3 separate regions of the Homo sapiens genome follow, and all the other regions are linked to region 1. The links come from fine-mapping of genetic effects on gene expression. A gene starts in region 1. Each other region holds a variant in brackets. All regions are shown on one strand. Distances are between the middles of the regions.

Region 1 (8,181 bases):
GCACCTCCTGCAGGCCAGGCTCTGTGCTAGTGTGTCCTATTCACCCTCCACTGCACCGATGGACACGCCCATCAATTTTGCCATTTACAAGTGAGCAGACCAAGGCCATGTCCCCCAAATGGGAGAGCAGGTCTAAGTCGGAGGCCAAGGTCTGCGGAGTCAAGGACAGCTTCTGAAAAGAGAAGGGAGTGGCCAACTTTTATTCAGGCAGGTAACAAGGCCGACTGGGACATGTTAGTGAGGAAGAGCAAGATAGGAGGAAGGTGCCTCCAGAAAAGGAGGCAGCGGGAGACTGCCCACACTTCTCTTCTGGACCCTCTGTGTCCCTGCGTATGGAAAGGGGCTCAGAGCTAATTCCTGTGAGAAAGCAGCAGCACAGAGATGGGCAGACACAAGCAAATGGGCCAGGCAGGGAGTAGTCCCTGGACAGTAGACTCAGGAGGCCTCAAGTCCAGCAGTGGAGAAGGTGCAAATGCCAGGAGATCTTTGCTCTGTGCACCCATACCACTCCCACAGGAGACCCTCAGAGGTGCAGTAACACAGGGAAGACAGGCAGGAAAAAGATCCAAGCAGGCTGGAGTGGGAGGACAGGGAGGTGAGAAAGACTTGGGATGGCACATCAGAGGAATGAGTGAGCGGGGAGAGGAATGAGTGAGCGAGGAGAGGAATGAGTGAGCGAGGAGAGGAATGAGTGAGTGAGGAGAGGAATGAGTGAGCGAGGAGAGGAATGAGTGAGCGAGGAGAGGAATGAGTGAGCGAGGAGAGGAATGAGTGAGCGAGGAGAGGAATGAGTGAGCGAGGAGAGGAATGAGTGAGCGAGGAGAGGAATGAGTGAGTGAGGAGAGGAATGAGTGAGTGAGGAGAGGAATGAGTGAGTGAGGAGAGGAATGAGTGAGTGAGGAGAGGAATGAGTGAGTGAGGAGAGGAATGAGTGAGTGAGGAGAGGAATGAGTGAGTGAGGAGAGGAATGAGTGAGTGAGGAGAGGAATGAGTGAGTGAGGAGAGGAATGAGTGAGTGAGGAGAGGAATGAGTGAGTGAGGAGAGGAATGAGTGAGTGAGGAGAGGAATGAGTGAGTGAGGAGAGGAATGAGTGAGTGAGGAGAGGAATGAGTGAGTGAGGAGAAGAATGAGTGAGTGAGGAGAGGAATGAGTGAGTGAGGAGAAGAATGAGTGAGTGAGGAGAGGAATGAGTGAGTGAGGAGAAGAATGAGTGAGTGAGGAGAGGAATGAGTGAGTGAGGAGAAGAATGAGTGAGTGAGGAGAGGAATGAGTGAGTGAGGAGAGGAATGAGTGAGCGAGGAGAGGAATGAGTGAGCGAGGAGAGGAATGAGTGAGCGGGGAGAGGAATGAGTGAGTGGGGAGAGGAATGAGTGAGTGAGGAGAGGAATGAGTGAGCGAGGAGAGGAATGAGTGAGCGAGGAGAGGAATGAGTGAGCGAGGAGAGGAATGAGTGAGCGGGGAGAGGAATGAGTGAGCGGGGAGAGGAATGAGTGAGTGAGGAGAGGAATGAGTGAGCGAGGAGAGGAATGAGTGAGCGGGGAGAGGAATGAGTGAGCGGGGAGAGGAATGAGTGAGTGAGGAGAGGAATGAGTGAGTGAGGAGAGGAATGAGTGAGTGAGGAGAAGAATGAGTGAGTGAGGAGAAGAATGAGTGAGTGAGGAGAGGAATGAGTGAGTGAGGAGAGGAATGAGTGAGTGAGGAGAGGAATGAGTGAGTGAGGAGAGGAATGAGTGAGTGAGGAGAGGAATGAGTGAGTGAGGAGAGGAATGAGTGAGTGAGGAGAGGAATGAGTGAGTGAGGAGAGGAATGAGTGAGTGAGGAGAGGAATGAGTGAGTGAGGAGAGGAATGAGTGAGTGAGGAGAGGAATGAGTGAGTGAGGAGAGGAATGAGTGAGTGAGGAGAGGAATGAGTGAGTGAGGAGAGGAATGAGTGAGTGAGGAGAGGAATGAGTGAGTGAGGAGAGGAATGAGTGAGTGAGGAGAGGAATGAGTGAGTGAGGAGAGGAATGAGTGAGTGAGGAGAGGAATGAGTGAGTGAGGAGAAGAATGAGTGAGTGAGGAGAGGAATGAGTGAGTGAGGAGAGGAATGAGTGAGTGAGGAGAGGAATGAGTGAGTGAGGAGAGGAATGAGTGAGTGAGGAGAGGAATGAGTGAGTGAGGAGAGGAATGAGTGAGTGAGGAGAAGAATGAGTGAGTGAGGAGAGGAATGAGTGAGCGAGGAGAGGAATGAGTGAGCGGGGAGAGGAATGAGTGAGTGGGGAGAGGAATGAGTGAGTGAGGAGAGGAATGAGTGAGTGAGGAGAGGAATGAGTGAGTGAGGAGAGGAATGAGTGAGCGGGGAGAGGAATGAGTGAGCGAGGAGAGGAATGAGTGAGTGAGGAGAGGAATGAGTGAGTGAGGAGAGGAATGAGTGAGTGAGGAGAAGAATGAGTGAGTGAGGAGAAGAATGAGTGAGTGAGGAGAGGAATGAGTGAGTGAGGAGAGGAATGAGTGAGTGAGGAGAGGAATGAGTGAGTGAGGAGAAGAATGAGTGAGTGAGGAGAGGAATGAGTGAGTGAGGAGAAGAATGAGTGAGTGAGGAGAGGAATGAGTGAGTGAGGAGAAGAATGAGTGAGTGAGGAGAGGAATGAGTGAGTGAGGAGAAGAATGAGTGAGTGAGGAGAGGAATGAGTGAGTGAGGAGAAGAATGAGTGAGTGAGGAGAAGAATGAGTGAGTGAGGAGAGGAATGAGTGAGTGAGGAGAAGAATGAGTGAGTGAGGAGAGGAATGAGTGAGTGAGGAGAAGAATGAGTGAGTGAGGAGAAGAATGAGTGAGTGAGGAGAGGAATGAGTGAGTGAGGAGAAGAATGAGTGAGTGAGGAGAGGAATGAGTGAGTGAGCAGAGGAATGAGTGAGTGAGGAGAAGAATGAGTGAGTGAGGAGAAGAATGAGTGAGTGAGGAGAGGAATGAGTGAGTGAGCAGAGGAATGAGTGAGCGAGAAGAGGAATGAGTGAGTGGGCAGAGGAATGAGTGAGCGGGGAGAGGAATGAGTGAGCGGGGAGAGGAATGAGTGAGCGGGGAGAGGAATGAGTGAGCGGGGAGAGGAATGAGTGAGTGGGCAGAGGAATGAGTGAGTGGGCAGAGGAATGAGTGAGCGGGGAGAGGAATGAGTGAGTGGGCAGAGGAATGAGTGAGCTGCCTCCCTCTCTTCTCTGTGTTCCCACACCCCAGCCACCCTCAAAACCCAGCTCCCTGAGCCCCATTCCTGCCCCTCAGGAACTCCATGCATCCTGAGACCCCAGACCCGTCCTGCTGACAAACTCACCAGGCCCTGGTGTCCCCAAAACCAGTTCTGTTTCGGGGGTTGAGGAAAACACTGGAGGCGGCGGCAGTTGTCATAGAAGGTGTAGGTCCAGGCCAGGACGCGGGCCAGGAGCCAGGAGCCTCCAACCAGCAGCAGAAGCAGCCACGGGGATGCTGCCACGGGCCCGAGGCCCAGCCAGGACAGGCTCAGCTGCGGCATCCTGCAGGGCAGACGGGATGGAGGGTGGGATCCTGAGGCCCAGGGAAGGGCCCAGGAAGCTCCAAGGACAGTGGAAAGGGGCAAGGATGGGCAGTGCTGGAGGCAGATCAGGGAAGGCTCTGAGATGGGTAAACAAGAGCTGAGATCTAAAGTCCAGAAATGCCCAATGAAAACCAGCAGCCAAGTGGCCTCCAGTTACACAGAAAGGGAAAGAGAGAGAGAGGCTGATTAGAATCCAAAAAGGCCCAGCCTGAATCACTGGGAGGTTGCCAGGGGTCCAGTTACCAGGAAATCACCAGTCTCCCAGGCCAGCAGCCTTGACCCACCCCAACCTTGGGCAGTCCCCTCCCCATCCCAGGCCAGGACCCTCCAGCCCTGCCACTGCCAGCCTGGCTCCTATCAGAAGCAGCTTGTCCCACATACCCTCCTCTCCCCCTCTGCTAGGAGGTCTTTGCCTCTGGCCCCTGATTTCCGGAAGGCTGTGGGAGGCGAGGCTGGGCTGGGCTGGTCGAGCCAATCCCCATGGACTGGGTGTGTCTTCCAAGCCTGGGCAACCAACCAAAACCTGGCGTAGGGCCAGCTGGGTGCAGAGGAGCCAGCTCAGGGTGACACAGCATGGGCACAGGATCCGCAGGTCTCAACATCTCACACCTGAGTGGGAGGGGATCTTGAGGAAGAGTCAAAGGTGACTCTGAGCCCCAAAGTTTACAGCCACCTTGCCCTTCCAAGGCAAGAGTGTGGCAGATAAAGTCATGAACTTGAGAGTTCAGGTGGCAAGAGAGTGGGGCCAGGCCAACCATTGTGCCAGATCATGTTCTGAGCTCCTCTCCACATGTGGTCCAGGAGTTCATCATGCACCATTTCTCAGTGCAGACTTAGGAGATTCAGAGACAGAAGCTCCTGGCCTCTGGCTTCACAGTCTGGCAGGAGTTCAAGTCCTGCCTCCAGGCAACCCAGGGCCTGGGTCGAGACATGACTGACAGGAGTAGGAACAAACTATCTAACTGTGCTGGGGATTACCCGGTCAGATTTTAGAGATAAAGAGCCCCGCTGGAGGAGAATACCTGGAGGCTAGGTTCAGCATAGGAGGACAGAGAGGGGAGATGGGAGGTAAGGCTGAGAGGGGCCATGAGTGGATGGGGCCAGGGACAGGAGGGCAGAGATGGGGGACCCTGAGTGGAGTCCTTATTCTGCCCTCCCCTTGCCCTAACTGTGGGTAGTGAGCCCCTCCTGGACTCAGGCTTCCCATCTGGGAAATGGGATGTCAGATAAGGCCTTAGAGGGGGACAGAGGAGGGATCACAGGAAAATGGGCCTTAGATGGGGACAGATGAAAGATTCTGAGGAGGGAGTGAAGGGAAGGGGCTGGCAGCTAGCACTTTAGCTGCTGTGTGTCAGTCTCTGCTCTTTGCAAAAGACAATATGCAAAGTTCTTTTACTGTGTACTGGACTCTAAATAAAGCACACCTACCATGTGCCAGGTACTCTGTATACATGTTGTGTACTGTGTGCCAAGTGCTCTATGAAAAGTGTGTCCACTGTGTGCTGGGCGCTCTACAGAAAATCTTGCTTCTTTGTTCTCGGTCCTCTATATAAAGTGAAATTTGTGCGGAGTAACTTATGTAAAGTGTACCTACTCTGCACCTGCTGCTCTATATAAAACACACCTACTGTGTGTCAGATGTTCTATGTAGAGCATGTTTACTACGTGCCTGGTGATCTATGTCAAGTGCACCTACTGTGTGTCAAGTGCTCTACATAAAGCGTGCCTACTCTGGGTGCTGGGTACTCTTCATAAACTGTGACTCCATGTGTCCGGTACTCTACATAAAGCACACCTACTGTATGCCAGATGCTCTACATAAAGTGTTCTTTCTGTGTGTCAAGTGCTCTACATAAAGCGTGCCTACTCTGGATGCTGGGTACTCTTCATAAACTCTGACTCTGTGTGGCCGGTACTCTACATAATGCACACCTACTGTGTGCCAGATGCTCTATATAAAGTGTTTTTTCTGTGTGTCAAGTGCTCCACATAAAGTAAAACTACTCTATGTAAAGTTCTTGACATAAAGAATGCCTACTGTGTGCAAGGCACTCTCCACAAAGCACTCCTACTATGTGGCAGGGGCTCTAGGTAAAGCATGCCTACTGTGTTCCACCTACTCTAGGTCAAGTGCACCTGCTCATGTCAGATGCTCACCCGCGTCACCATGCCCAAAGCCTTCACACCAACCTCCCCTCGGTTCTCTGAGCCAGAGCCCTGGGATTGTTGGAGAGACCTGAGTGATGGCATCCAGAGAAGGGAATGCATCCATTTAACAAAAGAGCAAACTGAGTCTCAGAGAGGGCAGGCCTCTAGCCCAAGTTACAGAGCTCACAGGAAGCCAGGTTTGTGAGATCCTCAAGCCCAAACCTTTTTCCTCTGCCATGCTGTTCTGCACCCATTCATTAGGGTCAATGCCATATTAATACAGGGACATGTATAAATGGAGGAATCTCAGGCAATGTCATGGTCCCAGAGGGGAAATATCTTGAGGTCTTTGAATCAGCACCTGGCTCCTCCTCCCACACCCCGGATGCTCCACCCAGCAGACCCAGGGCTCCCCTCCTGGCCCTCCTTGTATCCTGTCCAGAATTGCCCTGCCGGGTGGACTTGGGTGAGGGGGTGCTTGAAGGATGGGGCTCCTAGCACAGCTGCTAAGCAGGAGGGCAGGGAAGACAGTGCTCCTGACACTGGCTGGGTGTTGGGGAGCCCCAAAGCCTCCCCCACCCCACCACCACTGCCAGCTCAATCAACCAGGGGATTCAGGCTCCTGGCCCTACAGCCTCAGTGGGGTAGGGTGCATCCCCCAAAATCCCTACTCCCTCTGCAAGGACAGACCTCACCTACTGGCAGTTCCATCCCTGTTAGGCTCAGGGAGCAAAGCCAGAGTTTGATGAACAGGCGGGGTTATAGGGACACAGAAGAAAGCGCTCCCAGTGGCTAGAGGGGTTTGGCACACTGTAGACCACCTGTGTGCCTGGGATGAGCAGGCAGCCTAGAGCAGGAATGGTGGCCACCACCATTTGCCGACATAACCTACACAGCCTGTTTTAAGTCCTTTAAGTATATTAGTCACCTTGTTTTTCATTTTACAAATGAAACATTAAGCCTGGAAGATACTTAAGTGACCACCCACAGTTGCACAGCTGGTGGAGCCGGGCTATACACCCAGACCTCCCACCCAGCCTCACATTGTGCTACCCTCACCACCGGGCCGTGCTCCTTCACGTCTGTAAATGGGCGTTTCAGCAGCACCCACCTCACATGGTTGTCATAATACTTAAAAAGACAATGCATGCAAAATGCACAAGGCAGACTAAAGGTTCAGCAAGTGCAACTCACTGTTCCTGCTGTTGTTGCAGTTGCTGTGTAAGCTGCATATGGGGTTTGACCTGGATCCCACAGGGGGCAGAGACATGGCCTTGCACTGTATTAGAGAAGGGACCTAAAGGTCCAGCCTGTCCTCACCACGTGTTCTCTTTGGCTGTAGATTATGGCTAGGGGAGCAACCTCCTAGACACAGGAGGCTTGGCCTGAATCCAGAAGAGTTATCTGTGGTGAAGTAGTAACAGAAAATTTGAACACCTGTTAGGTGTTAAGGCAGACTCACAGGTGGATTCTTGCAGGGGAGATGCCAGCTGTTCTGGTTCTGGGAACTGAACAATCCGTGGAGCCCAGCCTCCCATCTAGTGAAGAAGTGAGCTCTACACAGCCCAGCTACTGCATCCATGAGAGTCTCTGCTTGAATGTCCCCCAACATGGAGACCTCAGCACACACACACACACACACACACACACACACACACACTCTGCCTTTACAGCAGTGGTCCCCAACCCTTTTGGCACCAGGGACCAGTTTCGTGGAAGACAATTTTTCCACAAGTTGCAGCAGGGGGAGGAGAGGCAAAGATGGTTTCAGGATGATTCAGGTGCATCACATTTATTGTGCACTTTATTTCTATTATTATTACATTGTAATATATTATGAGGTAATTATACAACTCACCGTCATGTAGAATCAGGGAGCCCTGTGCTTGTTTTCCTGCAACTAGATGATCCCATGTGGCGGTGATGGGAGACAGTGACAGATCATCAGGCATTAGATTTTCATAAGGTGCACACAATCTAGATTCCCTGCATGTGCATTTCACAGTAGGGTTTGCACTCCTTTGAGAATCTAATGCTGCTACTGATCTGACTGAGCATTACTGAGCTCAGGCAGTAATGCGAGTGATGTAGAGCGACTCTAAATACCGAAGAAGTTTTGCTCATTTGCCCACCGCTCACCTTCTGCTGTGTGGTACAGTCCCTAACAGGCCACAGACCAGTACCAGTCTGCTGCCTGGAGGTTGGGGGTCCCTGCTTTACAGAATATTAGAGGGTAGATACTCTACGGAAATGAGCCTCAAACTCAACCAGTTCTAAATCAATGAGAAAGGGGATCATTTAAAATGCATCTTCCTCTATGTACACACATGTCAAGGGAGGCAAGATATGAGGCTAAGGGATTGAGGTACAGAACAGCAGGTATGTCTGCAAGATTTTCACAGAAATTAGGTGAACAGTGCACACATGCATACACTTCTATCTGTCATATTTGTATAAATAAACTCTAGCATGAATAATTTTTAAGCT
Region 2 (8,181 bases), 20 kb after region 1:
TTGCACCATAGCAACCAGTGAGAGACCCTCTGGGCATATGGTCACAGATGATGAAGTGACATAGTTAATGATGGAAATGGCATTAAATGTGTCCTATGAAAGTGCTACAGAAGCAGAACTTTCTATACAAATAAATCAAAAATTTTTCCAAGAGCCAAGCTGTTGTGAGTGTTAACCACTTTGTTACCTTTTTCTTCCACTTTCTTTTGACTCATGTTGCTATGGTATATCTTTCTCCATCTGTTTACTTTTCACTTATATATGCCTTTATATTTACAGGGTTTTCTTGTTAAAAAAAAAACTTATATCTGAGTCTTATTTTTTTGACCCCCTGTGACAATCTCTGTATTTTAATTGATGCGTTTTAATTAATAATTAACTAAATCGTTTCTTACTATAGTCACTCTGTTATGCTAGCAATTACTAGGTCTTAATCTTCATTCCTACTATTTTTTAGTACCCAATAACCATTCCCACTTCCCCCGGAAGCCCCAACTACCCTTAACAGCCTCTGTTACCCATTCTACTTTCTATCTTCATAAGTTCAATTGTTTTAATTCTTAGCTTCCACAAATAAGTGATACCATGCAAAGTTTGTCTTTCTGTGTCTGGCGTATTTTACTGAATATATTGTCCTCAAGTTCCATCCATGTGGTTACAAATGACAGAATCTCATTCTGAATAGTACTCCATCATGTATATGTACCACATTTTCTTTATCTATTCAACTGTTGATGGACACTTTGATTGCTTCCAAATCTTGGCTATTGTGAATAGTGCTGGAATAAATATAGGACAGCAGGTATCTCTTTGATACACTGATTTCTTTTCTTTGGGGAATATACCCAGCAGTGGGATTACTGGATGTTATGGTAGCTGTTTTTTTCATTTCTTGAGGGACTTCCAAACTGTTCTCCATAGTGGTGGTACTAACTTACATCCCCAACAACAGTGTACAAGGGTTCCCTTTTCTCCTCATCCTCACCAGCATTTGTTATTTCCTATCTTTTGGATAGAAGCCATTTTTACTGGGATAAGATGATTTCTTATTGTAGTTTTGATTTCCATTTCTCTGCTAAATCAATGATGTTCAGGATCTTTTAATATGCCTGTTTGCTTTTTCTATGTCTTCTTCTGAGTAATGTCTGTTCATATCTTTTGCCACTTTAAAAAACATATTTTGTGTCTGTGTGTATATAGTACGTGTATATATTTATGGGTCACTTGAGATGTTTTCATACAGGAATGCAATAAATAATAATCATACCATGCAAATGGGGTATCCACCCCCTCAAGCATGTATCTTTTGTGTTAAAAACAATCCTGCTATACTTTTAGTTATTTTAAAATGTACAATTACATTATTATTGAATATAGTCACCCTGTTGTGCTATCAAATATCAAATGTTATTCATTCTAACTACTTTTTGTACTCATTAACCATCTGCCCCTGCTCCCCCAATCACCCATCACTACCCTTCCCAGCCTCTGGCAACTTCATGAGTTCAACTGTTTTGATTTTTAGATCCCACAAATATTTGAGAACATGTGATGTTTGTATTTCTGTGCCTGGCTTACCAAAACCTATGGAATACAGTGAGAGCAGCAATAAGAGGAACGTTTATAGCTCTCACTGTATCCCATAGGTTTTGATATATTGGGGTTCCATTATCATTTGCTTAATAAAATTTTTCAATTTCCTTCTCAATTTCTTTGTGGACCAACTGGTCATTCTGGAGCATTTTGTTTAATTCCCATGTGTTTGTATAGTTTCCAAATTTTCTTGTATTATTTCTTTCCATTTTAGGCCACTGTGATCAGAGAAGATGCTTGATATTATTTCAGTTTTTTGAATGTTTTCAGACGTGTTTTGTAATCAAACATCTGGTGTTTCCTTGAGAATGATCTATGTGCTGAGGAAAAGAATGTATATTCTGCAGCCATTGGAGGAAATGTCCTGTAAATATCAATTAGGTCCAAGAGACAACAACCTTCTTGTCTCTTTTTATAGTTTTTGTCTTGACATCTATATTGTGTGATATAAATATAGGTACTCCCATGCTTTTTAAACTTCCATTGACATGATGTGTCTTTTTCTATCCCATCATTCTTGGACTAAGTATGTTTTTACAAGTGAAATGTGCTTCTTGAAGGCAACAAATCATTGGGTCTTTTTTATTTTTTAATCCACGGAGCCACTCTATGTCTTTTGATTGAAGAGTTTAGTTTATTTACATTCCATGTTATGATTGATAAGTAAGGACTGTCTTGGAAAGGCTTTATTTCTCTTTCATCTTTGAAGAACATTTTCACTGAATTTACTATTCTAGGGTAAAAGATTTTTCCTTCAGCACTTTAAATATGTCCTGTCACTCTCTCCTGGCCTGCAAGGTTTCTACTGAAAAGTCCACTGCCAGATGTGTTGGAGCTCTATTTTATGTTGTTTCTTTTCTCTTGCTGCTTTTAGGATCCTTTCTTTAACCTTAACCTTTTAGAGTTTGATTATTAAATGCCTTGTGGTAGTCTACTTTGGGTTAAATGTGCTGGGTGTTCTGTAACCTTCTTTTACTTGAATATTGATATCTTTCTTTAGGTCTGAGAAGTTCTTTGTTATTATCCCTTTGAATAAACACTCTACCCCAATCTCTCTCTACACCTTCTCTTTAAGACCAATAACTCTTAGATTTGCCCTTTTGAGGCTATTTTCTATATTCTGTAGGCATGCTTCATTTAAAATTTTTTTTTCTTTTGTCTCCTCTGACTGTGCATTTTCAAATAGCCTTTCTTCAAGCTCACTAATTCTTTCTTGTCCTTGATCAATTCTTCTATTAAAAGACTCGTGTATTCTTCAGTGCGTCAATTTCATTTTTTCAATGCCAGAATTTCTGTTTGATTCTTTTAAATTATTTCAGTCTCTTTGTTAAATTTATCTAATAGAAATCTGAATTTTTTTCTATGTTATCTTGAATTTCTGTGAGTTTTCTGAAAACGGCTATTTAGAATTCTCTGCTGAAAGGTCACGTCTCTGTATCTCCTGGATCGGTCTCTGGTGACTTATTTAGTTCCTTTGGTGAGGTCATGTTTTCCTGGATGGTCTTGATGCTTCTAGATATTCATCTGTGTCCGGTCATTGAAGAATTAGGTGTTTATTGTAATCTTCTCAGTCTGGGTTTGTTTGTACCCATCTTTCTTAGGAAGGCTTCCAGGTATTCAGACTTAGGTGGTATAAAATACGCTGTATCTGCATTAGGGGGCACCCCAAGCCCAATAACACTGTGGTTCTTGCAGACTCATAAAGGTACCACCTTGATGGTCTTAGATGACATTTAAGAGAATTCTCTGGATTACCAGGCAGAGACACTTATTTTTTCCCCCTTACTTTCTCAGAAACAAACATAGTTGCTCTCACTCTGTTCTAAGCCTCCAGGAGTTGGGGAAGCACTGACACAAGCACCTCTGTGGCCATCAGCACTGGAGCTGTGCTGGGTTAGACCTAAAACCAGCAGAGCACTGGATCCCACACAAAACCTCCTATGACCACTACCTGGCTACTGCCTAAGTTCACTCAAGGCCCTGGGACTCCGCAGTCAGCAGGTGGTGAAGCCAGCTGGACTTGTGTCCTTCCCTTCAGGGCAGCGAGTTGCCCCATGCCCTGCGTGGGTCCAGAGTTGCTAGCGACTGGTATTATTAGTACTGTGTGCCAGGGACTGGCATCAAAAACTTTAGAAATCTACCTGGTATTGTATTTATTGTGGCTGAGCTGGCACTCAACCCACGAGATGCAGTCCTTCCTACTAGGGCCATTGACATTTGCCAACATGAGTCACGGAACCTGTTTTAAGTCTTTTAAGTATATTAACCACCTTGTTTTGCATTTTACAAATGAGAAATTAAGTCCGGGAGATATTTAAGTGACCACCCACAGTCACACAGCTGGTGGAGCCAGGCTGTACACCCCCAGACTACCCACCCAGTCTCACATTGTGCCACCCTCACCACCGGGCTGTGCTCCTTCACGTCTATAAATGGGCGTTTCAGCAGCACCCGCCTCACAAGGTCATGGTAATAACTAAAACAGACAATGCATGCAAAATACACAAGGCAGACTAAGGGCTCAGCAAGTGCAACTCACTGTTCCTGCTGTTACTGCGATTGCTGTGTAAGCTGGATATGGGGTCTGATCTGGATCCCACAGGGGGCAGAAACATGGCCTTGCGCTGTCTGAGAGAAGGGCCCTAAAGGTCCAGCCTGTCCTCACCACCTGCTCTCTTTGGCTGTGGGTAATGGCTAGGAGAGCAACCTCCTGGACACAGGGAGCCTTGGCCTGAATCTAGAAGAGTTTTCCATGGAGAACAACAGGAAACCTTGAACTCCTGCCAGATGTTAAGGCAGACTCATAGGTGGATTTTGGGGAAGGACATCAGCTATTCTGGGGCTGGGAACTGGACAACCCATGGAGCCCAGCCTCCCATCCAATGAAGACGTAAGCTCTGCACAGCCCAGCTACGGCATCCCTGACAGTCTCTACTTAGATGCCTCCCAGCATGGAGAGCTCAGCACACACACACGCACAGACACCCTATTCGTTTACAGAATATTAGAAGGTAGATACTGAATGGCAATGGGCCTTATGTAACCAGTCATAAAATTGATGAGGAGGGGGGTTGTTTAAAATGTGTCTTCCTTTACGTGCACACATATCAAGGGAGGCAAATA[C/T]GATGCTAAGAGAGTGAGGTACAGAACACCAGGTATGTCTGCAACATTTTCACAGAAATGAGGTGGAGAGTGCATAAATGCATATGCCTCTATTTGTCATATTTGCATAAATAAACTCTAGCATGAATAACTTTTCAGCTTAACATGTACTTGTTTATGTATGTATAACTATTTATATGTTTACATATTTCACTTGCAACATTTATTCCATCTGTGTGTATAACCAGTAATCCTCCCCGGTCTCCACTCTGTAGGACCCTGCAAGGTGCCTGGTCATTGGACTTTCTACTGCAGGAGTGTGTGGGATGCACCTGAGCCAGAGTTCCCTGCAGCCTAGGAGGCCAAGGAATCCCAGGGCAGTCAATGTCCCTGGTGCTGAAGGAGATGGATCCCCTTCCTTCCCCTGCACCCTCCTCTCACCCTCGCAGCATCCTCCAGACACCTGGACCTGCTGTCAGGATCCAAAAGCAGTGCTTTGGAAGCCTTAGGGAGGTAACCACTGATTCCCATGCTTCTACTCACATTGGCTGCTCAGCAAAAGTAGGAAAGTCCCTACTGCAAAAATGTCAATGTCCCCTCTGGTGCCTGGCAACTGCCAGGGCCAGCCCTACTTCTTGTATCTTCCATGTTTGAAATTTTAACATTTGAACTCACACCCGAGGTTGACCAGAAGACCCAGATAGCTCTGAGCTTTGCACCTGTGACCCACTGGTATGGCATTGCTTTCATGGGAGTAACTGGGATTTGGCAGCCTGATGGGGCTGATGCACTGATTTGGGGGTCACTCCACATGAACCCACACTGAATTCAGGGCTGTGGCATACAGACAGATCAACAGCAACCTTGGGTGTGGGTTTCTATGAACCTGTGTGTCTGACTTTGTATATTCATTTTCTGGTGTCATCTGTAGTCTGCAGTAACTAATAAGGGCAAGGATGGTTTTTATTGAAGAAGACACACCCTTTCTATAATAGAAAATGTCCACCCCCTGACCTGGTGCAGTGGTACACACCTGTAATCCCAGCATTTTGGGAACCTAAGGCTGGCAAGTTGCTTGACCTCAGTAGTTAGAGACTAGCCTGGCCAACATGGCAAAACCCCATCTCTACAAAAAGAAATACAAAAAAAAAAAAAAAAAAAAGCCCAGGCATGGTGGTACAGACATCTAGTCATAACTACTCAGGAAGCTGGGGTGGGTGGATTGCTTGAGCTCAGTAGTTAGAAACTAGCCTGGGCAACATGGTGAAACCCCATCTCTACTAAAAATACAAAAAATTAGCTGGGCATGGTGGCGGGTGCCTGTAATCCTAGCTGCTTGGGAGGCTGAGGCAGGAGAATCACTTGAACCCAGGAGGCAGAGGTTGCAGTGAGCCAAGATCAAGCCACTGCACTCCAGCCTGGGCATCAGAGCAAGACTCCGTCTAAAAAAAAAAGAAAGAAAAAGAAATACACACACACACACACACACACACACACACACACACACACAGCCCACGCATGGTGGTGCATGCCTGTAGTCCCAGCTACTTAGGAGGCTGAGGTGGGTGGATTGCTTGAGCCTGGGAGGTTGGGGCTGCAGAGAGCTGAGATCACACCACTGCACTCCAGCCTGGGTGACAGAGTGAGACTGTCTCAAAAAAAGAAAAGAAAAGGAAAGGTCCACCCCTGTGTAAACTGCCAAATGTTTCCCTTCTTGCTCAGCAATATCTCTGCTGTTATTATCAATGCATGTCATGGGGAGATGACACAGATATTGAGAAGGCACTTTGCCTCTCACAGGTTTTCTCCACAAATTTAGTTCCCCTCCATATTGCTGGGGAAAGTAGCTTCCCCAAGAATGTGCCTGGAGATACCTGTTGCATTCTCTCTCTCTCTTTCTTTCTTTTTTTGATAGGGTCTCACTCTGGCACCCAGGCTGGAGTGCAGTGGCACGATCATGGCTCGTTGCAGACTCAATCTCCCAGGCTCAAGCGATCTTCCCACCTAAGCCTCCCAGGTATTTGGGACTACAGGCACATGTCGCCATGCCTGGCTAATTTTTGTACTTTTGGTAGAAACGGGGTTTCGCCATGTTGCCCAGGCTGGTCTCGAACTCCTGAGCTCAAGTGATCTGCCAACCTCAGCCTCCGAAAGTGCTGGGATTACAGGCGTGAGCCACCACACCCAGCCTCTGGTGCATTTTCCCTTCCAGGTTTCTTGTTACATGAATTTGTAAAGATATTTGTCAGAGATAAAGGTGTGGTTATGACAACGTAGGAGTTGTTCTTACAACTCCTTTCTCAGAGAATGCAGTCAAAGTTGTTCATGTATAACTCATGTATAACTTCAAAATTTAAAGACAGAATATGATGCAGCAAGGAAAAGTGAGCTAATATTTGCAGAGAACCTTTCAGTGATCAAACGCATTGCTGGGAAAATTTCATAGATTGTATCATTTTTGTGTCTTTTAGCCTAGCTACAATCATAACTTTTCTTTTTTCTTTGGTTTTCAGCAGTTTTGACTACTGTGTGTCTAGGGCTTTGTGTGTGTGTATGTATATATTTGTGTTCATGTTTGTCTATATGCACTTTTTAGAAGTTATCCCTTTGGAGGCCAGGTGCGGTGGCTCATGCCTGTAATCCCAACACTTTGGGAGGCCGAGGTGGGTCGATCACTTTAGGTCAGGAGTTGAGATGAGCCTAGCCAACATGGCGAAACCCTGTCTCTAGTAAAAATACAAAAATCAGCCAAGCCTGGTGGCATGTGCCTGTAATTCCAGCTACTCAGGAGGTTGAGGCAGGAGAATCGCTTGAACCCGGGAGGCAGAGGTTGCAGTGAGCCAAGATCATGACATTGCCCTCCAGCCTGGGAGAGAGAGTGAGACTCCATCTCGAAAAAAAAAAAGAAAAAGGAAAAAGAAAGAAAAGAAGTTATCCTTTTGGAATTCTCTGAGCTTCTTGAATCTGTGGTTGATTATCTCTCATACTTCCTAGAGAATTCTCAGAATGTCTGAGTCCCATACCCACTCCTCATGTGATGTGTCCTCAGATAAGTGAACTAACCTCTGAAACTCAGTTTCCTCATCTGTAAAGTGAAAATAATAATATTAATGAGGACATGATGATTGGCAGTTCATAAGCACTGGATAATGTCAGCTATAGATATTGTTAAAGGGTGTGGTCCTTCCTTAGACCGAGCAAAATTGGCACTTAACTGGGCTCTGCACCTCTGGGACCCACACTCTTCAGTGTCTTCTTTGAAGGAGGTTCTCTGGGACCTGAAATCAGCCAGGATGTTCATTGACTCCAGGTGGGGCAGTCCAGGCCAACACTGATTCTCAGTCAGTCCAACCACAGGAAAATAGCTCCCCCCAAAAAAATGTCCAAAGTCCCCTTTGGTGCCTGGAACCTGGCAGAGCAAGTCCTGATCCCCAGTTCTTCCCTTTCAGGCAATCATTTATTTTATTTTATTTTTGAGATAGCATT
Region 3 (8,181 bases), 38 kb before region 1:
CAAGAGGTTTGCACTTCTCCCACTCTGAGCCCCACATAGCAGGAAGAGGGCCAAGGGCAGAGGAAGAAGGGAGGATGGGGAGGGGAGGGAAGACCAGACCAGGCTACAGCAGCACAGTACAGCAATGACACTGCCTAACATGGCGTGTAGGAGCTATGTCAGGGTTCCAGCATGCCTTGACATGCCTCCTACACGATCCAACATGTTCCGCAACCCCTGAGCACAGCTCAGCATTCTACAGAATGCTTCACAAGGACCTAGGACACCCTGTCTGTCCCAGCACTCTCTGACATCTTCTGATATGGCATCTTCTGACATGGACCTGGACATGAGACATGACCCTGACATGTGTTCACATGTCCTGACATGGCCACAAAATACATGACAATTCCTAACATGAGATGGTGTGCTCTAACATGCACATGAGATGGTCTAACATGATCTTAAAAGCGTGTTCCACATACAGGCTCTGGGTTGAATATAAATATGGTACCTTTAATGTCACAGACATAGCCAACATGTGAACCAGACTGTTCCTCAGGCATGACCCAAATATACTATAACACATGCCTCAGACAAGACTCAAATAATGTCTCAGACAGTTCACATAGGGACCCTGGGTCCCAGACCTCACACAACCCCCAGACCTCACACAACGCCCAGATGTTTGGACCACCAGGAGAAAACGGCAGTGTCAAACAGCACCTGAGACAAGAACCAAACAGGCCCTCACATGCCCCAAATGTCCTTGGCCACAGATAAGCCCCAAACTTGACCAGCTCTACATGACCCCAGTTGGAATTATATACCAGATGTAACCAGGTATAACATATTTCAGGTGTAACCAGGACCCAGGTGTAAATATACAAGGCAGACCTGGCCATATAACAGCCATTGTAGAGACACGCCCCAGACATGAGCAAACAGCAACAGAGGTTAGACAGGTGGAAGTCCAGGGGCGATGGAGGCAATGGCATCTCCACCACAGCCCCTCCTGTCTGCACATCGGTCACGTGTTCAGCTGGAGGCAGCACAGCAACCCCAGCTGTGGGCAAAGCTTGGCCAGTGCGATGTCTACCTGGAGCAAAGAGCACAGGCTTGATGCACGTGGGGAGAAAGATGTGGATGACTGCCTGCCAGGGCCCCACCCACCAGCAGCCCATATCCCCAAAGGTGCACGCCAGGCTTTGTGTGTATAGGAGACCTTCTTCTGAGCTGTGAATCTGGAGAAAAACACACAGGACCCAATTCATGCTCTCCTAGGCTGTGAGAGAGAAGGATCTGCAGGGAAGAGGTCGAAGCCCTCTCCCTGAGAATTTCAAGCAGCATCTCATCCTCCTGTCAGTGCTGAGCACCCCCTGCCTCCTCACATCCTCCATGCAGGACTCTCCAGTCCTTCAGTTACACAGACAGAAAAGGTCTTTCCCCATGTGGATCCACACACCATGTTCCCTGGGCTCTCATTCATCCCATTTTCCAGATGAAGAGCCTGAGGCTCTGAACAATAAAGTCACTTGCCCACAGTCCCAGACCACGGCAAGCCTGAGGCCTAAGACTAGGTCTGTCTGCACCCATGGCCTGAATCCTTAACCAACAAACTTCTTTGTGCCCCCAAAACAGTAGCTCTGGAAGACCCAGGCCTACCAAGACTGGGCAATCAGAGACACAGGGATTGGGTGAAAAATTGGTCCTGTGATCCAGGCCAGGAGAAGTAAACCATGGGCCATTTCTGGGAACTCTAGGGGAAAGGTGGCCTTTCCCATAAGAACTGAGCTTCTGGGACTCATCGTTGACATCATGAGGAAAAGGCCACCTTGATAGGAAAAGCGACATGGAGAAAGCTAAAGCCAAGAGAGAAAGACAGATTTCCAGTGACCTTGTGTGAGACCTGGATCCAGCCATGCCTGAAGGCCACCCTCCCTGGACTTTAAAGTCAATAGATTATCTTTCTTTGCTTAGACCACACCAGGTTGGGTTTCCACCACTCACAACTGAAAGAGACTTCAATAACCAGAGACAGCTGGGTACCAGCCCAGAGTCACTCAGCATTTTGAGGTCAGAGCCATGGTCTCTGTAGGATGCTGCCCATTCCCCCTGCTCAGCCTCGCCCGTCCAACGATGGGAAGCACAGGGGTCAAGGAAAGGGACCCAAGCTGGGGTGGAGTCTCCTCTTGGAGATCCCCGGGACCTGCAGCAGGAGAGCAACGAACTTAGGGCAGACAAGCTATAGGATGGGGTAAAGGGAATTGACCCACCAGAGGTGGACATCATGGAAGTAGCAGCCCAGATCCCCCACCAGCCACAAGTCCTCCTCATTGTTCTAGGCTTTGGGACAGGCAAGGTGATGCTAGGCCTGGCAAGGGGCCTTGAATACTAACGATGTCCAATTGCCTCACCCTGCACTCTCCTTTCAAACATTCCTACTCATTGTTCCAGACACAGCTCCAGTAACTCCTCCTCTAGGAAGCCTTCCAGCCTGCCCCAGCAGAGACCTTGTTCTTCCCTGGGCTGTGATCCATCTCCCTCTGGCCCTTTCCTGATCCCATGAAGTTGGGGATATCTCTATCCAGGTCCATCTCCTTAAAGTTGGGGGTTCCTCCAGGACTGGGCCTTGGGTTGAGGTCTCTTAGGGTTCCAGGGCAGCCCAGAACACCAGAACAGGGGGTAGATGGCAATAGAGAGAGGAGACGCTGAGATGGAAATTGATGAATACATGAAAGAAAGATGAAGATAGCTGAGAGGGAAGGAAAGGAGAGGCCAGAGTACTGCAGGGCCCACACAGGAGCTTGGGGATAGCGGAAGTGCAGGCCTCAAATGCACTGCCCCACCAGCTGTTCCAGATGGTACCTGAGGCGTTGATGACAGACCGGATGATGTCGGGGTGGCACAAACTGAGGAGGGGGGAGATGGGTCCCATCCAGACCTTAAAGCCCTGGGGGTAGGTGGCCACCAGCTGAGTCAGAACTCTCATGCCCTCCTCTGTGGGGTTGACCTGCAAGCAAGGCAGGGGTCATTACCTTCTGTGATAGTTAATTCTAGGTGTCTACTTGACTGGGCTAAGGGATGCCCAGGTAGTTGGTCAAACATTATTTCTGGGTGTGTCTAATCTATTCATCCTATCTATCTAATTTTTCTATCTATATATCTATCTGCCTACCCATCTATCCATCAATCCATTTTATCTGTGCTTTCATCCATCCATATATTCATCTGTCTGTCTGCTTATCATCTATTAATAGCCATCTATCCGTCTAATCTATCCATCATATATATCTACTCCATCTGTCTACATAATCTATCCATCCTATCTACTCTATCTACCCATCCATCCATCATCCATCCATCCATCCATCCTATCTGTGCATCCGTGTGTCCATGCATCCATATGTCCTATTATTTGTCTATCTAT[C/CCA]TATCCATCCATCCATCCATCCATCCATCCATCCATCCATGCTATCTGTGCATCCATGTGTCCATGCATCCATCTATTCTATTATCTATCTACCTACGTGCCTGTCCATCCATCCATCCATCCATCTATCCATCCTATCTGTGCATCTATCTATCTATCCTATTAGCTATCTATCTATCTATCTATCTATCTATCTATCTATCTATCTACATTCCTCCTGCTCTATCTATCTATCTATCCACATTCCTCCTGCTCTATCTCTCTTGGGTCCATCTCCAAGTCCCAAGGGTGCATCCCAGGGCAGAGGGAGAAGACGCACTGTCCACTCACAGAGGCCCAGTTATCTTGAGAGGAAGGATTTTCTTTTTCTGGGAGTCATTTCAGCCCAGAGGCAGCTATATGGGGAGGTCCTCACAGGGGAGATTTGTGGGGAGCAGTATCGCCTCAGGACATGTCCCTAAGGCTGGTCCCCACATGCCTTCATGTCCTGGCTGATCCACAGAGGCTCCAGTTCCTCCCATGGAGAAGGTTCTGCACATGGGAGACCTTCCCTTTTCAGCAGCCACTAGTGGAGCAGAGGTGACTCTAACTGTCCATCAGGACAATGGCTCCCACCTGGGAGCAGCTTCTGCAGCAGGCTCTGTGCTAGTGTGTCCTGTGCACCCTTCCACTTTATCTGTGGACACATCCATCAATCCTGCCATTTGCAAATGAGCAGACTAAGACCACATTCCCCAAAGAGGAGAGCGGTCTAAGTCAGAGGGCAAGGTCACGGGGAGGAGAAAGGCCAAGGAAAGCTTCTGAAAGGTGAAGTGAGTGGCCAACTTTTATCTGGGTTTGGCAACAGGTCTCATTGATAAGAGGGAGATAAGAAGAAGAATATAAGAGAAAGGTGCCTTCGGGTGTAGTGGAAGTGGGAGACGGCCCATGCCTCTCCTCTGGCCCAGCTGTACCCTCATAACAGGAAATAGTCCAGGCAAGGAGAGGACCCTGGACAGTGGGCATAAGAAGCCTCGAGTCCAGCAATGGAGAATGTGGGAATGCCAGGGACTCGCCTCTCTGTGCAGCCAACCCTCTGCCCAGGAGCCCCGCAGAGGTGCATTAATGTGGGAAGACAGGCAGGAAAAGGATTCAATGCAGGCCTGGAGTGGGAGGACAAGGAAGTGAGAAGGGCTTGCGTAGGCACCTCACAGAAATGAATAAGCAGAGGAATGAGTAAGATGCCTCCTCTGCTTCTCTGCCACCCCAGATCCCAGCCCACCCCTTCACCCCCACTCCCTAAGCCTCGTACCCCTCAGGAAGTCCATCCATCCTGAGACCTAGACCCATCCTGCTGCCACACTCACCATGCCCTGGTGTCCCCAAAACCAGTTCCGTCTTGGGGGTTGTGGGAAACACCGAAGGCGGCGGCAGTTGTCATAGAAGGCGTAGGTCCAGGCCAGGACATGGGCCAGGAGCCAGGAGGCCCCGACCAGCAGGAGGAGCAGCCAAGGGGATGCTGCCACTGGCCAGAGGCCCAGCCAGGACAGGCTCAGCTGGGACATCCTGCAGGGCAGACGGGATGGACGGTGAGATCCTGAGGCCCAGAGAACGGCCCAGGGACCTCCAGGGACAGTGGAGAGGCAGGGACGGGCAGTGCCGGAGGTAGAGCAGGGAGGGCTCAGGGATGGGTAAAAAGGGGCTGAGAGGTAAAGTCCAGAAAGGCCCAACCAAAACCAGCAGCCAAGTGGCCTCCAGTTCCCTAGTAAGCACTTAGAATGGGAAAGAGAGAGAGAGACTGATTAAAGTCCAGAAAGGCCCAGCCTGAATCACTGTGAGGTTGCCAGGGGCTTGGTTTCAGTTACTCGGAAACCACCCATCCTCCAGGCCAGCACCCAGGAGCTGCGTGGGCCTTGGGCAGTGCCCCTCTCCATCCCAGGCCAGGACCCCCCCCAGGCCTGCCACCCCCAGCCTGGCACCTTCTGTCAGGAGCAGTCTGTCCCAGACAACCTCCTCTCTCTGTCTGCTGGGAGGCCTTTGACCCTGGCCCTTGATATAGCAAAGGCTGTGGGAGGGCTGGCTGGGTTGGGCTGGGCCAACCAATCCCTGCAGCCTGGATGTGTCTCCTGAGCCTGGGCAGCCAATCAACACCTGGCGTCAGGCCAGCTGGGTGCAGAGGAATCAGCTCAGGGTCCAGATGGATGGGTAGATGCACAGATAGATAGAGTAGATAGGATGGATACATTAGGTAGATAGATAAAGTAGATATAGATAATGGATATATTAGACAGATGGATAGATAGCTATTAATAGATGATAGATAGATACATAGATAATAGGATAAATAGATGGAATGGATAAACGTACAGCTAAGATGGATTGATGGATGGATGGGTAGGCAAATATATATATAGATGAGAAATTAGATAGATAGGATGAATAGATTAGATAGACACACCCAGAAATAATGTTCCATCTCTGTCCCAGATATGTGGGATCCTCATTTGTGACATGGGAACTAGGGATCTTGGATCACTCCAATCACTCCAGATGCTACAAGGCCAGTGACTTACTCAGTATGATGCTGAGGAACATGACCATCAGAAACAGGATCAGAGTCACTCTCAAGCAAAAAAAAAAAAAAAAAAAAAAAAAAAAAAAAAAAAAACTCCAAGGATTAAATGATTTTTCCCATTGTCCTGGGGAGAAATTAATCCAAGGGAGGTCACAGGAGGGCAAATAATTCCCCATCACCACCACCACCACCATGAGCATACCATCACCCATGGAGTTTTCTGATTTACTCTTTGGCCCATTAAGCGTGAAATTTCTTATGCTAGGTTTCTTTCTGATAAGGGAGAAGAGATTAGTATCTCTACATTTCCTCTCCTCCTGCTACCTAGTCTCTGTATTCTAGGTTAAATTATAATTTATGTTGAGGATTTACAATGGCTGATACACCTAGCTGAGCCTTCTGCACAGAGATACATTGGGAGTGGAGGTTAATTGGGTCAAAGGAGAAATGCCATAAGCCCACACTCCAGCCTATCAGGGTGGATTAAAGGTCTGATTTGCCCAACTCTTGTCACACCTGCTCCCACTGAGAGGTGACAGCATGCTGGCAGTCCTCACAGCCCTCACTCGCTCTCGGCGCCTCCTCTGCCTGGGCTCCCACTTTGGCGGCACTTGAGGAGCCCTTCAGCCCACCGCTGCACTGTGGGAGCCCCTTTCTTTTCTCTTCTTTTCTTTTTTTTTGGATTTTTTTATTATTATTATTATACTTTAAGTTTTAGGGTACATGCGCACAATGTGCAGGTTAGTTACATATGTATACATGTGCCATGCTGGTGCGCTGCACCCACTAACTCGTCATCTAGCATTAGGTATATCTCCCAATGCTATCCCTCCCCCCTCCCCCCACCCCACAACAGTCCCCAGAGTGTGATGTTCCCCTTCCTGTGTCCATATGTTCTCATTGTGTAGGGACATGGATGAAATTGGAAATCATCATTCTCAGTAAACTATCGCAAGAACAAAAAACCAAACACCGCATATTCTCACTTATAGGTGTAGGAGCCCCTTTCTAGGCTGGCCAAGGCCAGAGCCGGCTCCCTCAGCTTGCAGGGAGGTATGGAGGGAGAGGCGCGAGTACGAACCGGGGCTGCGCGCGGCACTTGCGGGCCAGCTAGAGTTCCAGGTGGGCGTAGGCTTGGCAGGCCCCGCACTCGGAGCAGCCGGCCGGCCCTGCCAGCCCCGGGCAATGAGGGGCTTAGCACCCGGGCCAGCGGCTGCTCGGGAAGGTGTACTCGGTCCCCCAGCAGTGCCAGCCCACCGGCGCTGCGCTCGATTTCTCGCCGGGCCTTAGCTGCCTTCCCGCGGGGCAGGGCCCAGGACCTGCAGCCCGCCATGCCTGAGCCCCCGGCCTCCGTAGGTTCCTGTGCAGCCCGAGCCTCCCCGATGAGCGCCGCCCCCTGCTCCAGGGCGCCCAGTCCCATCGACCACCCAAGGGCTGAGGAGTGCGAGCGCACGGCGCGGGACTGGCAGGCAGCTCCACCTGCAGCCCCGGTGCGGGATCCACTGGGTGAAGCCAGCTGGGCTTCTGAGTCTGGTGGGGACGTGGAGAACCTTTGTGTCTAGCTCAAGGATTGTGAACGCACCAATCAGCGCCCTGTCAAAACAGACCACTTGGCTCTACCAATCAGCAGGACATAGGTAGGGCCAGATAAGAGAATAAAAGCAGGCTGCCCGAGCCAGCAGTGGCAACCCGCTCAGGCCCCCTTCCACATTGTGGAAGCTTTGTTCTTTCACTCTTTGCAATAAATCTTGCTGCTGCTCACTCTTTAGGTTCACACTGCTTTTATGAGCTGTAACACTCACCGCGAAAGTCTGCAGCTTCACTCCTGAGCCAGCGAGACCACGAACCCACCAGAAGGAAGAAACTCCGAACACATCTGAACATCAGAAAGAACAAACTCCAGACGCGCCACCTTAAGAGCTGTAACACTCACCGCGAGGGTCCGCGGCTTCATTCTTGAAGTCAGTGAGACCAAGAACCCACCAATTCCGGACACACCATTGTCTGAGTAAGTTTGGGTGCCAGGACTATGAGGTCGTGTGAAGACTTCCAGCCCCATACCTGCAGAACAGTCTGCAGCTCACTCTGCTCTGAACTGCCCCAACTTTGCACAGATATTCTCCATTCCTCGAAATGAAACTGTATCCTTCAAAGCTCACACATTTCGCTTATTGGCTCAGCGTAGGGAGCAAGTTCTCTAGATAGCTTACTACCAAAT

What was found. PIP is the estimated chance that this variant, and not a neighbour inherited with it, causes the effect.
Region 2: its variant is fine-mapped to the expression of CYP4F11 in left ventricle (GTEx, PIP above 0.99).
Region 3: its variant is fine-mapped to the expression of CYP4F11 in unexposed skin (GTEx, PIP above 0.99).

What each region holds. Positions count from the first base shown.
Region 1 is chr19:15,930,905-15,939,085 of GRCh38, forward strand. It overlaps CYP4F11 (cytochrome P450 family 4 subfamily F member 11), which reads right to left and starts at 3,625. Exons shown (of 12, transcript NM_021187.4): 1 at 3,307-3,625. The coding sequence starts at 3,504.
Region 2 is chr19:15,951,386-15,959,566 of GRCh38, forward strand. No RefSeq gene overlaps it. Among named protein-coding and RNA genes, the nearest start is that of OR10H4, 6.5 kb to the left of the region's middle. The variant C/T (reference allele first, on the strand shown) is at 4,717.
Region 3 is chr19:15,892,659-15,900,839 of GRCh38, forward strand. It overlaps CYP4F2 (cytochrome P450 family 4 subfamily F member 2), which reads right to left and starts at 5,416. Exons shown (of 13, transcript NM_001082.5): 1 at 5,368-5,416; 2 at 4,756-4,954; 3 at 2,848-2,992. The coding sequence starts at 4,953. RefSeq lists an enhancer at 1-627. The variant C/CCA (reference allele first, on the strand shown) is at 3,410.